Regions from separate parts of the Homo sapiens genome. Here region 2 is linked to region 1. Evidence: fine-mapped expression QTL. A gene starts in region 1. The other region holds a variant in brackets. All regions are shown on one strand. Distances are from middle to middle. Region 1 holds the start of SAR1A (secretion associated Ras related GTPase 1A). Region 2 overlaps PPA1 (inorganic pyrophosphatase 1).

Region 1 (2,500 bases):
CTAGTTTTGTTTGGTTTTCTATACGAATTTTAGGAACAAATAGGGTAATTAAAAAAAAAGAACGAAACCACACACGACCTATTAATCCTATTAGTACTTTTATTGGGATTATGTTAAATTTAAATTTTACTAAAGGAGAATTGAGATCTTCATGAACCCACAGACGTCATTCATCTTTCCATTAGACTGTTTTATTTGTAAAATGAGAGTAATAATAGTACCAATCTCGTGGGACTGTCCTGAGAATTAAATGAGAAAATGCATGCGAAATATACTGGGGTGAACACGTTGCTTTGCCACTTAGCTGTGTGAACTTGGGCATGGTAGGTTATTCTGAACATTGCTCTCTCATTTGTCAATAAGGATAATACTAGCATCTGGAGTCACAGGACTCCAATGACGGTGAAATTAGACAAAGCGTGCAAAGTACCCAGTGCTCTGCCTGGAACATAAGTGCACAATAAATATTAGCTGTTTTTCTGTTTTTCTAAAACATAGGCCACCCCAGGGCAAGGAAGTGCGACTCAAAGCAAAAGCAGCTGGGCGCGGTGGCTCACGCCTCTCATCCCAGCATTTTGGAAGGCCGAGGCCAGCGGATCACTTGAGGTCAGAAGTTCGAGACCAGCCTGGCCAACACGGTGAAACCTGTCTCTGTAAAAATACAAAAAAATTAGCCAGGTGTGGTGACATGCGCCTGTAGTTCCAGCTACTCGGGAGGCCGAGGTATGAGAATCGCTTGAATCCGGGAGGTGGAGGTTGCAGTGAGCCGAGATCGCGCCACTGCACTCCAGCCTGGGCGACAAAGTGAGACTCCGCCTCAAAAAAAAAAAAAAAAAAAAAAAAAGCAAGGAAGAAAAAAAGCAAAAGCTTGGAGGGATCCACCTCAAGTGGAGGGCCCCAAGGTCAACTCATCTTTCCCAGGACCTATGTCACCGTCGGTACCCACTTCTGACTTTCCTGGTGCGTCTGGAATGGGAAGCCGCGATCCCGAGTGTACCAGGCCGCTCAGGGACTCCAGGACCCAGCCCCGGACCCAGGGTTCCGGCGCTGCCACGTCTCGCGCGGTCAGCTAGCCAGACGGGAGCAGGCGGGGCCGAGGCGGGGCCAGACCCCGAGCGCGCTTTGTCACGCCTTATGCCCGCCCCTCCGCGGCCCGAGTCGCTGGTGGGACGGCACCGGGGCAGAGAGGCGTAACGCTGTGAGGGGGCGGGGCCCATTACGCGCCCGGAAGTCCCGGGGAGGGGTGTGACGTACATCCGGCGAGTAGCTGGCGGTCCCGGGTGCTGCTGGTTAGTGTGCTCTGAGGGAGGGTCCGAGCCAGCCGCTGTTTTGCCGGAGGAGCCCCTCAGGCCGTGAGTCTGAGGGTCGCGTCGGGGAGGGGAGTTGGGGCTCGAGGGGCTGGGACGGAAGGCGGGGAGGTCGGAGCGGAGGCTGGCCCTGGCGGGGTTGGGTGGGGGGGAAGTGACACGCAGGCGGTTCTGTGGGGCCGCGGGGCTGATTCTGGGCGGGGACGGGACAACTTGGCCAGATCTGCTCCGTCCCCTGCTGTCCTCTTTGCCTGGGGTCCACTTGCATTCCGCTCGGGGGTCTCGCAGCTGCTGGGCCGGATAACAGTTTCTTGTCTGTACCGTGCGCTCCGGTTTACGAAATGGCTCCATGTCCTCTGTCTCGGAAGAGCCTCACAGCCCTCGGTGAGGCGGGTGGGAGCCCTTTATGATTATCCTTGTTTTGTAGACTCGGAGACTGAGGCTGGCCAAGGCTCCGCAGTTAGCGAGTGTGAGCGCTCGAACCTGGTCTACAGGCCCCTAGTCCAGGGCTTACCCCCAAGTCAGCGCTTGGTTGTCTTCCGATGGCCCGGGTCGAACCCTGTATTTTCTCCTTCTCCCTTCCCCTTTTCCCCTGTCTGGTCTCTGCATGGAAAAATTTCCTTATGTGCATTTGACATGGATTAGCGTTTTCTTCACGATTCTAGCCAGTGGGTCAGGAGCATCTTTGTCTTGTTGATTCCATCGGCTTCGGTTGCGACAGGGGGCTTAGGGAGATTCGCCATGGGGCTGACCTTTGACATTTACCCCGCAGCTAAGCAGAGTTAGCTAAAAGCCAGCCGCCTACTACCCCAAATCTGCCTGGAATGGCGTCTTAAAGTTGCCCTGATTATGTATAACAAGTAATGCGTAAATTTTTAAATTGGCTAATGGTCAGATTGGTGCCCTCCTTTTCTATTAACATTTGTTTGAATCATTTAGCCCTGGAATTCGCAAGTTTTCATTTTAGGTACATTAATAGTGTTTTGTTGATAGTTTAGAGACCTACCTTAAATTTTAGATTACTCTTAACTTCTCGTAAGGTGGTACAATGGACCAAGAATAGAAAATAAATAGAATGCTAGTTATTAAAATACCATTCAAAAGATGTGATGAGTTGTAAGGAAGAGAACTTCGGAAGATCATCCTCTGTGTAGTTGGTGGGTTAAAGAAGTTTTAGTTTTTTTTTTTTTCCC
Region 2 (3,024 bases), 48 kb before region 1:
ATCTGTGCCCTTTGTAGAGGCTAAAAACTGAAAAACTGCAGTTAAAGTTCTATTCCGTGAAAAAAAATAGTATTCTGAATAATTAAAGCTCAAGTTTAATTAAATAACCTATGGCATATTTAACTCCAGTGTGCAAAATGGGTTGGCAAAGTATGGTTTGTTTTTTCATTGTGTTTTTAAACTGCACATCTGGGAATTTACTCCCTGAATATATCATCTATTTTATAGTAGTCAGTTTAAGGCTATAAGCCAATTACAGTAGAACTATCATTGATTAAAATATTTTTAAAGCATATTCTCTTATCTTCAAGGTCAAAGTCCTTTTCAGGGGGGCTTTATTTCTAAAAACAGCCGAATTGGGAGAATAATGTGGATAATGAAGCTGATGAGTTTTGTTTGATGCTAAAACTAAAGTATGACCAAGTAATTAGGCTGATGTGGGGTTCGTCTTATAAACTAAAGTATGATCAAGTAATTAGTCTGACTTGGGGTTTGTCTTATAAACTGTCTCTGAAATAGAAGCTCCAAAAACATTTTGAGTAATTGCAGTGTCTCTGAAGGAAATAACACTGGCCTTTGGAGAGTGTTTTGAAGATGGTCTTCTTCAGAGATACAGGTTCTGTTACGTTTATTTAAGAACTGTTTCCTTCCTAGGAACATTCTTTCCACTGTCAGCTTTTATTCTGAAACACTTAAAGCATACAGAAAAGTTAAAAGATTTATATAGTAAGTTGGCTGGGCAAGATGGCTCACACCTGTAATCCTAGCACTTTGGGAGGTGGAGGCAGGAGGATCACTTGAGGCCAGGAGTTTGAGACCAGCCTGGGCAACACAGTAAGACCTTGCCTCTATAAAAAATTTAGAAGTAAATAAAAATTAAGAAGAACTATACCGTAAGCAATCATATACTGACCACCTTGATTCTATAATGAATATTTTCCTATAATTGCATTATTTCTTCATCCATCATTCTCTTTTTTTGATGCATTTTGTTGAAAATCCAATTGACTTCAAAGATCTGATACAATGAACAGTTTGACTTTGGAAGAAATAGTGCATGCTCCCTCAGAGAACAAATTGGCTCCTGTGACCATCTCACTTTCTCTTTGTTTTTTCAGGATGTGTTTCACATGGTAGTTGAAGTACCACGCTGGTCTAATGCAAAAATGGAGGTAATATTTCACCTTACATTTGAGTCAGACTTAGGATATTGGTTTTGATCTAGTCACACTGACTTGATCAAGGATGAACCATCTGAACGTCAAGGTTT[T/A]TCTCTGTCTGGTCCCAGTCTATTTTCTAGTTGTATCTCCCATTGCCTACTAGTCTTCCCTTTGGGCTCCAGCTAAACTCAACTGTTTACAAATATGCCCCAAACTTTTCTTCCCAACATCTTTGCTTCCAATGTTCCCAAAGCCTAGAATTACTTTTTCTCCTCTTACTCTCTGTAAGCCCTTCACTGACCCCTCCTTAGTCACCCCAGCCACAGATACTCTCATTGGAATTTCAGTTGCATGGTGTTAGTTTCTTTCTGATGATACCTACCATCATTGCCTTTTTGTTATGGATATTTATAACATATTTTATATCACAAACTCTTAACAGTAATCACTTTTTTTGTGTAATAAATACCCAAGTATTTGAATAATTTTAAATTCTGTGAAGGAAAACTAAAATTGGATAATATTTATTTTGCCCTTTTAATAAAAATTGTGGTATTTTTATTACTCAAACATTAGAATTTATTCCAGCTAATTTTAGTCTTTGCTTTCTAGAATTAGTAAATGTTCTTTTTCCCTTCTTGATAGTTCCTTTATACCTCACATAACCTTTCACTTAATGGCCGATTATGGAAACACCTTAGTTCAATTATAAAAGTGTTAGGGATAAAATATATCATTAAAGTGGAATTAGGGAACATAGGTACCATAATTCATTTCCTCAGATCCTTATTTGAATAGTATTTCACATCCAAATATGCAAAGATTTGAAATTTTCTTATTTCAGATTGCTACAAAGGACCCTTTAAACCCTATTAAACAAGATGTGAAAAAAGGAAAACTTCGCTATGTTGCGAATTTGTTCCCGTATAAAGGATATATCTGGAACTATGGTGCCATCCCTCAGGTATGTCTTCATGCAACTGCTGACAATGTACTTTTTAGCTTACTAAATATTAATTTACTGCTATTAGTAAAAAAGGTTTGAATACCTGTGGAGAGTTTTTTCTATGGTAGATTTTGAAAACATAAGAAGGGATAATTAACTCAGAATGCTTCCTTAAATAACTTATTTTCAAGATAAACTAAATATTTACAATGTTTAAATTCAGATTTGAACGTTTATTCTTTCCTGAAATATTTCTTCTTTTTTGGACTGGTTATAAGCTATATAAATTCTCTACAGACTGAGTTGCAAGTCTGTTCAGTCAAGAAAGAGTGTATGGTAGTAGTCAAAAGCACTGATTTTTGGCACCAGACAGACCAGAGTTCAAATCCCAAGATGGCCAATTCCTAGCTTACCTAACTTGCCTCCCTTTCTTTCTCCTTGAGACGTCCATATCGCCTCCCTGAGCTATTCACAGTATGTAGGTGGTATGGTTATTTCAAAAAATAAAGCACTTAATACCTGCACACAACAAGCTGTCATAGCTGCTGACTTTATGTTTAGAGTTTTGATTCCCTCTTCTTCAGGTCAAGCTCTTTGTGGTAAAGTAATGAGAGGATCATGTTTTCTTAAGTAGTCAACCTTTTTTTTTTTTAATTAAAAAAATTTTTTTTTGAGATGGAGTCTTGCTTTGTCACCCGGGCTGGAGTGCAGTGGCGTGATCTCGGCTCACTGCAAAAGCTCCGTCTCCCAGGTTCACGCCATTCTCCTGCCTCAGCCTCCCAAGTAGCTGGGACTACAGGTGTCCACCACCTAATTTTTTGCAGTTTAGTGGAGACGGGGTTCACTGTGTTAGCCAGATGGTCTCGATCTCCTGACCTGTGATCCGCCTGCCTTGGCCTCCCAAAGTGCTGGGATTAC

What was found. PIP is the estimated chance that this variant, and not a neighbour inherited with it, causes the effect. A credible set is the group of variants that fine-mapping cannot tell apart.
Region 2: its variant is the best candidate, but not a certain one, in a credible set for the expression of SAR1A in skeletal muscle (FUSION, PIP 0.74).

Annotation. Positions count from the first base shown.
Region 1 is chr10:70,169,265-70,171,764 of GRCh38, reverse strand. It overlaps SAR1A (secretion associated Ras related GTPase 1A), which reads left to right and starts at 1,251. Exons shown (of 7, transcript NM_020150.5): 1 at 1,251-1,352. RefSeq lists enhancers at 757-836, 970-1,626, 1,627-2,285 and a silencer at 967-1,326.
Region 2 is chr10:70,216,912-70,219,935 of GRCh38, reverse strand. It overlaps PPA1 (inorganic pyrophosphatase 1), which reads left to right. Exons shown (of 11, transcript NM_021129.4): 3 at 1,119-1,172; 4 at 2,005-2,124. Among named protein-coding and RNA genes, the nearest start is that of PPA1, 15 kb to the left of the region's middle. The variant T/A (reference allele first, on the strand shown) is at 1,271.